2 separate regions of the Homo sapiens genome follow, and region 2 is linked to region 1. Evidence: fine-mapped expression QTL. A gene starts in region 1. The other region holds a variant in brackets. All regions are shown on one strand. Distances are from middle to middle. Region 1 holds the start of CNTNAP2 (contactin associated protein 2). Region 2 overlaps CNTNAP2 (contactin associated protein 2).

The links. PIP is the estimated chance that this variant, and not a neighbour inherited with it, causes the effect.
Region 2: its variant is the best candidate, but not a certain one, in a credible set for the expression of CNTNAP2 in whole blood (TOPMed, PIP 0.52).

What each region holds. Positions count from the first base shown.
Region 1 is chr7:146,114,385-146,119,772 of GRCh38, reverse strand. It overlaps CNTNAP2 (contactin associated protein 2), which reads right to left and starts at 2,972. Exons shown (of 24, transcript NM_014141.6): 1 at 2,800-2,972. The coding sequence starts at 2,896.
Region 2 is chr7:146,333,683-146,339,070 of GRCh38, reverse strand. The region is part of intron 1 of CNTNAP2 (contactin associated protein 2); the gene reads right to left. Among named protein-coding and RNA genes, the nearest start is that of CNTNAP2, 220 kb to the right of the region's middle. The variant G/T (reference allele first, on the strand shown) is at 2,067.

The DNA.
Region 1 (5,388 bases):
TAGGTTAATAGTTCTACTAAATGATGTAAATTGGCCTTTATGAGAGATCATTTATTTAAGTGAAAATTCAGTTAACTCTAAAAAGTGAATTTATTAAGCGCTAGCTTAATCTCCTCATCATTTAGAACTGCACCATCAAGGTCTTTATAATATGTTCAAATAAATGCAACTCCCTAAGAGTGAAATATTTTCTTTAAACTTCCCACGTGTGTCCCGTGTATCTACATTTACAGGAAGGGAAGATACACGATTTGTTACATCAGCTCAGCAGCAGTTCATTTTCGCTATCTGCAAAGAAATTAGATTATATTTTTACATAACCATAGTGATGAGCTTTGTTTTCAAGTTTATTCTAGTCTGCTTGTACAACACATAGTATTAACAGTTTTTATATGTCTGTCGACAGAGAAAAAGAAATAAGTCATAAGCAAATACATATTTGAAATGCAGTTGTTGTGAAATAAACATCTTCTGTCCCTCATATTAAAAAGGTATTTAGGAACAGAAAGTTTTAGCATACTCATCACATTTTAAAAATGTGTACCAAAGAAAAATGATAGTTTTAGATTTTCATGCTACTTTTTGTCTTGTGATGACCTCTCCTGGTTGAGTTGCTCATTATCTTAGATTCATGTAGTTTCCATCTTTTTCTCCTTTGAATGTTTTATATTAAGAATATAACTATCATACTTTTCTTCAGAGCTATATATAATGTAAATAAAAATGTTCATTAATGTAAAGTACAGTTGATATTTAAAGTACTGAATCCATGAAACTCATTCTAATCAATAAAGTTCTGTAGCATCCTTATTATTTAATTCATTTCCAGGATATAGGGCAACTTTGCATTTTGGTCACACAGTTTAAATTCAAACGAAATAAAAAGCCACCTTAATTAAGCCATTACACATTTTTAAACAATAGAGAATGAAAGCCAAGTTAATAAAAAATCTTAATGGCCATAACTATTAACCATCTTAAAAGTAATTGTTTCTATGTTCTCTGTCTTCAAATTCTAACTATAAAGTTGAAAACTCAGAAAATATTTATGAAATAACAACTTTTTTATCTTAAAATGCATTAACCCAAGGGCTGCCAGTGTTCCATTTGCTACTCATGGCAGATGTTTCAGATGGACCCATCAAAATTAAAGTATACAGAATGATGGAACACAGAACCCAGGAAAAACCCTGGATATGAGGACCTTCAATCAGTGAATATAATAAATTTAATATATGAGGAGTTTATTTTCCAGGAAAAGTGGCAGGAAATTCTATACAACCAGACCTTGAAATGGAAACAGAAATTTCATCAAACTAGTTTCCCAGTGATAGAGTTACATATTTGTGTAAATATCAACAGCAAGCATTATATCCCCAAAATTTGTTTAAATTTATAAAATTGACATAAATATTAACAATATTTAACTCTTTGTGATTTAACTTGTGTTATAAAAAATGCTATACAATGTTTTCAAGTTCATTACAAACTTAGATTGCCAGTTAGTTTATCTCCTTATCTTTACACATTGTGGGAAAAGAAAAGCTAATACTGTACTTAGGAAGATATGTCAAAACAGTAATACTGGCTCATAACCGGATATTATATAGTAGATTCCTTATTACAACTTATAATGTCCTTTTTCAATGCTATTCCTGTTGATATTTACCACTACAATAAGATCATTATTAACAAAGATGCATTAATACATCCCAAAATCTTAGAAACAAAGACTACTTCGCATATGACGAATTCTGGAAAATATTAAACTTTTCTTTTCCTAAATGGACAAAAAAATCTTCCTTTTAAACTCTGAAATCTCCACGATAATTCTTTATCAACTTACTCATTCTCAGAAACTAGTATGCGCTTATGAATATTATCCTAAGATTCCTATAGGCAGTCTTTCTAGTGTTTAACTCTTTCTGAACCAAAGGAACAATCATGCATTTCCTCTCTACATGCACAGTATGCACTTCTAAAGGAATGCAGAAAATGGGCCAGAATCTTCCATTTCTTTCTAAACCTCATGAAAACAGGGGCAGTCTTAAACACACACACACACAAACACACACACACAGTTGATTAAAATGCAGAGATATACATATTGAATATAATTATTTTCCTGAAAACCCTATTAAGAATCTGTTTATTACTACATTAACGACGCTTTGCACTGAGTGTCCCAAGTACCGTACTGCATCAGTCATATCCATGATATCAAAGTATCAAAGAATTAAAGCAATTTCAGTTACAATTTCGCTGCCTTCCATTTTAATAAGCAAGTACTAAATGGGCATTAACTTTTTAAGGGAACGGGAGAGGTTAAAGAGACCCTATAGGTGCCCAAACTGTTTAAAACATGCTCCTCTTGTTAACCTCAACCCCGTGCTCATTAAGTTATAACCATAAATAAAAATAAGAAACTTGGTTTTGCCATGGTCTTCACTTTTCATTCACTGACCTACCTAAGCCAAATGCAGTTAACTCTCCCTGCACAAACAACTCCTAAGAAGCTGCCATCTACATCAGTCTCTCTAGCCAAGCTCTTGCCAACCGATCACCAAGACCAGGAACAACTTTCCAGAAACATCACCAGCGTCACAACCCTGTCTCTTCCAAAACAGAAACGCTGGGTTTCGAGTTTGTCTACTGCAGTGGCTGCAAGTGTGTGACAGCGGAGACACAAACACATCAGGGTGCCAGCACTGCGATGCACTTCGGAGTTGATACCCTGGTGCCAAACATCAATGCCGCACTGAAACTGCTCCAGAGCAGAGCGAGGAGACGGCTACTTACGGGACGTGGAGGGAGCCGTCCAGGCTCTGCAGAGGCAGCTGCTGACAATCCACAGCAGGAGCGCTGCCCCGCAGCCGGCGCGCGGAGCCGCCTGCATCCTTCGCCTCCCGGCCGGCGGCGCTCCAAGAGCTCGCTGCGGAGATGCAGTCCGACTCTCCGTAGGGTTCTTGAAGGGAGATGGGCTGTCCTCAAATACGCGAGGAAGCCAAGCCCCTCCCGCTTCCTCTTCTCCCCTCACCCCCCTCCAGGCTCCAGTTCTTCCGGGCTTGGAGCGGCAGGGGAGTCTCAGCCTTCGTTCTCCCTCCGTGCGGGTATTGCCTCTTGCACTGTGTGCCAGTGCAACGCCGGGGGAGGAAATTCAAACCAAGAAGGCAAAGGAGGGGGAAGAGGGGAGGGAACGGACACCTACCCCGCCCTCTCCTTCTTGAAAAAAAAAAATCACCAAAGGACGGGGGAGGGAGGTAATCAGAAGAGCAGAGGCTGCAGAAGAGGAAGGCAGAGCGACGGGGACGGTGGTGCAGCTGTTGCCACTGCGGGCGAGCGCTCCCTCCGCCGCCGGGCAGCGTGACTCGAGGGGTTTCCACTCGCCTGTCAGCTCACATGGAGAGCTTGTGTATGTGGGGAGCGCGCAGCGCAGCCGGGGCGCACGCACGGCCTCAGCGCTGCGCCGCGCGAGGAAGCATCTCCCGGGCGGCGGAGCGCGAGCAGCAGCAACAGCCGCGGAGAGCAGGAGACGCCGCCGCCGCCGCCGCCGCCGCCAGCTCCTGTGAGCCCGGGCGGCGAGCGAGGCGGAGGGAAGCCCTCCCTTCTCTTCCCTTCTCGGTTCCCTCCTCGGCTCCTCCTCCTCCTCCGCCTCCTCCTCCTCTTCCTCCTCCTTACCGTACCCCTCTGGCTGTCAAAACCCTTCTGCCCTGCCCTGGCCTCGTTTGAAAGCAAAAGGGAGACTGAGCCGACCGGCCGGGGTCCATCAGCTGGGGCGGGGGCGGAGCAAGGAGGCGCGCGCCTCTCCCTGGGCGGGAGGTGATGCTGTCCGCGGTGCTGAAGTTGGGGATTTGCCGTGTAATCCTAGAACCCTGCTCCAAACCTGGCTGCCCCCTACCCGGCTGCAGGAAGGAGAACACCCTCGCTCGGATGCCTTCTCCTTTCCTTCTCTCCTCCCCTTCAGATAAAGATGGTACAGGCTCCTGGAGCTCCGGCCCCCCGGGAACCACAGTCAGGCGTCCGACAGGCAGGTCTTCCGAGTGGTCCTAACACCAAGTGACGGTGCTAAACATCCCGACTGACTGGAGCAGGGAGGGAGGACTGCAGATGCCGTTAATGCACATGTTTTCGATATGTAATTAATTCGTACTCATACATATGCACACGTACACCAAACACACGCTGCTGCCAGGAGAAACTACACTTAGGCAAACACGCATACAAACACAAACACAAAACGGAAATACATAAGCAGGCATATGGGTAACTATTTCAAGGTACCTGAGGCATTGCAAGCACTAAGAATTAAGAATGTTTAGAGAGACCTAGATTTTTTCACATTTAGATAATTTTAATAATAATTATCAAGCTCTTCTCCCCAGCTCACAGCTCTTCACACTCTACCCTCCATATGTTTTTCTTCCATCTAGTCTACTTAAAGTATTTGAATTCTTATGTCTCTGCAGAGCCAAGCATTCCACTGACTTTATTGACACAATTAAAAATTATTGGTCATCTAAATATCTAATGATGTTTGTGGAGGACTAAGTAGGAGTAACCATGTCTTTCGATGTTATGCAATGAATAAGCATTTGCATTTAAAGATAAATAGAAAATTTATGGAGGCTTGCCTAATCCTGGAATAAACTGAGTTTTTAACATCATTGTTTGGTCTTAGAAAGGTCCACTGTAAATAGTACTGTGTATTCACTGCATAATTAATATGGTGTTAATGGGTCTGATTCAGCGCTTTTTATTTGATCTTTGTTTCTTGTTAATTTAAAAGGATGCTTTGTCCTAGTAAGAACTGCAGATTGGGTACAATATGGAAAATGAAGAAACACACAGATGACTAATGGGAGGTGAACTGCCTCCTCATTCTATAAAATACTCCTCCTGTAAAATAATACAGCAAATGCATTCTTATGGATTATAAAATGTCCCTTTGCTGTTTGAATTATCACAGACTGTCAAAAGTCAATGACCACTTGCCAAAACACTCCAGTAAAGAACTGCCATCAGCCATTTCTAAGAGCTCAAAGAAACAAGTCATAGGAAAAAAAAAAACTGTCAGAAAGCGTAACTTTTCAGAACAATCTATTATTTAACTATGCCTCTCCATTTTAACTATCATACTGAACTCCAATAACATAGCATTAAAGTATTTTCAATAGAAGAAAAAAGGCAGCGATTGAAAGTATTACCATTTCAGTAACTCAATGAATGCTATTCCATGGGTATCTCAAGCAGAACTGAAACAATTCCATTTCCCAGATTACCAAACTAAAAGACATGCAATAGACATCTATTTAATTATTTTGTAACAGAAAATGATATACCTGAGGGTGTATTCTTCTCCAAAGAGCATTCTGATCAGTTTGTAGTAAT
Region 2 (5,388 bases), 220 kb before region 1:
TGGGATTACAGGCACCTGCCACCACGCCCAGCTAATTTTTGTATTTTTTTATTAGAGAAGGGGTTTCACCATGTTGGCCACGCTGGTCTTGAACTCCTGACCTCAGGTGATCCACCCACCTCGGCCTCCCAAAGTGCTGGGATTACAGGCATGAGCCATAGTGCCTGGCCTGAAACCTTTTTTAAAAAAAAAATCTTTTCTGTATCTAATATAGATTTTGCTTGTGGTTACTATGAGGCTTATATAAAATACACTTGTAACAGGCTATTTTAAACTGATAGCAACTTAATTCTGACCACATTAAAGACTCTATATTCTTAAAAAGAAAAATAAAAAAAAAGAAGTTCTGTTTAACTCTGACTGGGCAGTGGAACATGGGGTAATTATTTTCATCTAAGGAATAAGAAGGCTTCGTAGGTAAACACCAGCTGAGCAAATGTTGAGCCATGAGTGGGTATTAACTAGGTAAGGGGAGTGGAGGTGAAGCATGGAAGAGGAGGAAAATGCATTCCAGGCAAAGAAAACAGCAGGCTGTTCACCTCACACCAGAAAACTCCTCTATTGTTTTCCAAAATTAGATGGGCTACGAGTAATCCTCTATTGATGGTCTTTGGACTCCATATAACTTTATATCTGATGCGGAGAAGCATCAGAATAATCACTCTTTACACAGGACTGATATTCAATTTAAATACGTGCAGGTCTCCATCTACAGTAGTTAAATGCTCACACATAAAGCACAGAGTCTCTGTTAGTTCTTGGCTCCTAGATCCAGTGATTGGTTTGTTCCTCAGCATTTGCTACCAAGCAGATTGACAGAAAATGCCAGCATTTTAGAGTAATACGTGTGCAATGCTAGGACTATAGAAATATATGTGTGTACTTTGGACAGGTATCTGTAAATGTTACCTATGCCTGCCCCAGAAAACACAGTTTCTCTCTGTCTCCCCCAGCCCCCATATATCTGTATATCCATTTGTCCCCTCTCTCCTCTCTCTCATCTCAGCAAATGAGATGATGGTGAGAGGGTTGAAAAGGCCATCTTTGCAGTGATAGGAAAGCAAATCCTTCAGAATAAATGTTACCTGGAAATATCTCACTATTTTGCAAAAGTCATTGCCTATATTATTTTCTATTTTCAAGGATCAAATACCTGTCTTTGGCTGTCATAGTCTAGAGGTTTGCCGTTTTACCATTTCAAACTCATTTATGTGTAAGGTATAATTGTGCACACATGCAAGATACAAATTCTTCTTTTAAATATTGGTACATAGACTAATGAATAAAATCATAATCATAGGCTGGGTGTGGTGGCTAACACCTGTAATCCCAGCACTTTGGGAGGCTGGAAAGCAGGAGAACCGCTTGAACCCAGGAGTTTGAGACCAGCCTGGGCAACATAATGAGACCTCATCTCTACAAGAAAAATTAAAACAAACAAACAAAAAAGCCAGGTATGTGCCATATTCCAGTGGTCCCAGCCACTCAGGAGGCTGAGGTTGGAGTATCACATGAGCCTGGGATGAGGAGGTTGCAGTGAGCTGTGTTCATGCCACTGTGCTCCAGCCTGGGTGACAGAGCTAGACGCTGTCTCTAAAAAGTAAAAAATAAAACAGTAATCGTGTGCATTCCAAGATAAAATAATTAAACATGATTTGAATGTTAACTGATTTTCTATTTACTGATTAGGATCTAGCCCTTTCTCAAACTAGCAGTAGTTTCTTCTCACTTTTAAAAACACTCTTTACGTAGTTTGTTTTTTTTTTTTTATGTTAGAACAACCTCATGTAAAATCATGGAGACACTAAGAGGACCCAAATTTGTACATATCCCAGAAGTAATAAAGTAATCCACTTGTGTAAGTGCTAACATTTAAGCTTTAAATTTTTTATTTTGAAATAATTATGAATTCACTAGAAGGTGCAAAGACAGGGGGGTCCTGGGTACTTTTCATCAAGTTTCTGCCATGAATTCATTTAACGTAACTATAGCACACTATTTAAACCAGGAAATTGACATTGATACAATATATGTATATAGTTTATATCAGTTAATCACATGTGTAA[G/T]GTATAGGCACTACCACAATCTAAATGCAAAACTGTTCCATCTCAGACCCATCCTCTCCCTGCACTACAGCCATGGTTAACCCATGACCACCACTAATCTGTTTCCAATCCCTGTATTGTCTTTATTTCAAGAAGGTTGTGACCTTATGAGATTGGCTTTTTTCACTCAGCATACTGCCCTTGAGATCCATCCAAGTTGGTGCATCTAACAACACTTTTGTTGTTCTTCTTGTTGTTAGGTCTTCTTTTGTTTTTGCTGAGCAGTATTTCATGATATAGATGTACCACAACCTGTTTAACTATTCACTTATTGAGGAGTATTTTAGTTTTTCCAGTTTAGGGCCGTTAAAAATAGAAATGCTGTGAACAATCATGTACAGATTGTTGTGCATACATACATTTTTTACTTTCGTAGATGAAATATTTTTAGTTTTGATAAAGTCCAATTAATTCTGTTTTTTTTTTCCTTTATGGATTATGCTTTCGGTATCATGTCTAAGAACATGTCAGCAGGCCCTGGGGCTCAAAAATGTGCCTCGATGTTATATTCTAAAAGTTTGTAGTTTTATGTTTTCCATTTAAATTACAATCAAATTGAGATAATTTGGTAGAACTTAGAGAAAGTTCTGGGTGAAAGAAAAATCTATCTTTAAATCAAAAGTATTTCTGTGGAAGCATTTCTAGTAAATTACCGAGAGCTCCTGGAAGAAAGGGACCTATATCTCCAAGCCTCCATATTTTGGTTTTGATTACTTGTCTCACTATAGATAAATATTTACATTGTTTTTACTTTTTTTTTTTTTTTTAGACGGAGTTTCACTCGTGTTGCCCAGGCTGGAGTGCAATGGTGTGATCTCGGCTCACCACAACCTCCGCCTCCCAGGTTCAAGGAATTCTCCTGCCTCATCCTCCCGAGTAGCTGGGATTACAGGCATGTGCCACCACACCTGGCTAATTTTGTATTTTTAGTAGAGACAGGGTTTCTCCATGTTGGTCAGGCTGGTCTCAAACTCCCAGCCTTAGGTGATCTGCCCACCTCAGCCTCCCAAAGTGCTGGGATTACAAGAGTGGGTCACCGCGCCCTGGCCAATATTTACTTTTATATCATGTTTTATATTTTTAATTTTGTGTTCCTTGTTTTAAGGAATAGAGTCTCCCTCTTCCCCGACCCCTAAATAACATTGTATAAGTATCCAGTCTCTAACACCTTCTCTATGGTGTAGGAAACATTCAGATTGTGTGTGGAAATGCATGTGACCTAAAAGTATATATGAACACTTGTAGGAACAAAATGACACAAAGAAGCTACAGAGTTAGAAAATCATATTAAAAGGGAGACTTTTTTTAAAAAACGTGAAGGATGGAAAAGGGTTTTAACTGTTTGCTTCTATTAGACCTTTCTCCAGAGAAAACCGTCAAAAGCAAAGCTATCAAAGAGATTCTCCAGTAGCTCTCAGACAGAACAACAGTCCAAAGGGCTCTTCAAGAGAAAATCTAATGTTGGGAGGCTCCTTCTTATAGTGAGGGCACAGAGGAGGGCTCCTTCTTAAGAGAAGGTCAACTACTCTGCAAGTGCCTGAATTTGGTCGTCAGCTCAATAGCAAGAATCTCGAGGGACATTTTTCTGTCTTGTTTAGCATTTCAGTAGCTCTTTTTTAAAATTACATCTCTTAAGAATTTACATGTAATAAAATGTATTCATTTTCAATGTGCATATGGAGAAATTTTAGAAACGGTATATATCATCATAACTAACACTACATTCAAGATGTTGACCACAGTATATTTTTGTCATAATGAAAACTCTCAACATATAGGTTTTGATGTGAAGTTCAGAACAGGGTAGACCAGCATAGTCAGTGGAAATCTTCAAATCATTTACCAGTAATTTCTGAGCATTTGGCCACTGGCAGACATTTTGCTAGGTACTAGGGATGCAAAGATAAAAATGTAATAAGCTCTGACTTCACAGTTTAATGAGAACTCAAAGTCTTATGGGTGAGAGACACTGACTCTACTACAAGTGATCAAAGTGGAGGGAGTTTGGGATGTGATCAATGAGGGTTGAAAACTGTATAACATTTTGCCTGCATGGAAGGGGTGCAAGAATAGAAAAGGTGAGTGAGGATATTAACCTACATGTGCAGGGAAGCAATGAGGAATAATACTGATAACTGAAGTGGGGCATGAACAGGTTCACAAATGTGTGAATGTTATTCTTTCAAGTCATAATCCAAGAGAGGGAAAGTAATACATTGCTTCCACTGAAATACCCTCTTCATTACACTTGCAGAGGAGGAGCAGAAGTGGTGACATTGTCATGGGACCTGAGATCTCTTGGAGGAGAAATGGATATCTACAGGTAGAAAGAATTCCATCTTTGATGGTTTCATGCATACAATACAGAAAAAAAAAATGGCATGCATACAATTCATAACCTTTTATTTTTCAAACTCTCAGGTGCCATGAAAGAAGACAGGAGAACTAGCTAGTGACAGATTTTAGTTCTATAAGAATCTCACAAATAATTCTTGAGTGTTGGAGACTGATTGGATGCTTTTTTTTTTTTTTTTTGAGACGGAGTCTTGCTCTGTCGCCCAGGCTGGAGTGCAGTGGCACGATCTTGGCTCACTGCAACCTCCACCTGCCGGGTTCACGCCATTCTCCTGCCTCAGCCTCCCGAGTAGCTGGGACTACAGGCGCCTGCCACCACGCCCAGCTCATTTTTGGTATTTTTAGTAGAGACGGGGTTTCACCGTGTTAGCCAGGATGGTCTCGATCTCCTGACCTCCTAATCTGCTTTCCTCAGCCTCCCAAAGTGCTGGGATTACAGGCGTGAGCCACCGCGCCCGGCCAGGGCGCTTTAATTAAGCTGCTATAGGACTTCCAACCTTCTCTATGCCTCTTGCCTACTGAGTTTATTTTGCCGATCTCTGAATCTCAAATAGAATGGGCTTCTTCTGCTATGGTGGAGACTGGGTAACTATTCATCAAACTTATTTTATCTTCTTCCTAGTCATGGATCAGGATTATATTTTCTGGAACCTTGGCAGATAGGTATGGTCATGTGACTGAGTTTTAAATAAATGCATTTATTCCAGGACTGACCCTTGAAAACTTTCCAGGCACAATTCTCCATATTTCTTCAGTCTAGTACAGATAAGCATGGTGATCCTAGAAGCCAATGATGAGGATTCCATAGACATTGGGGAAATGAGCTAGAGTCTTTGAATTATTGCTTTGAAAAGAGTTACCAACCGAAAGTACCAGTTTTGTAAATGAGCAAGAAATAATTTTCTATCATGTTTGAGCCATGACACCT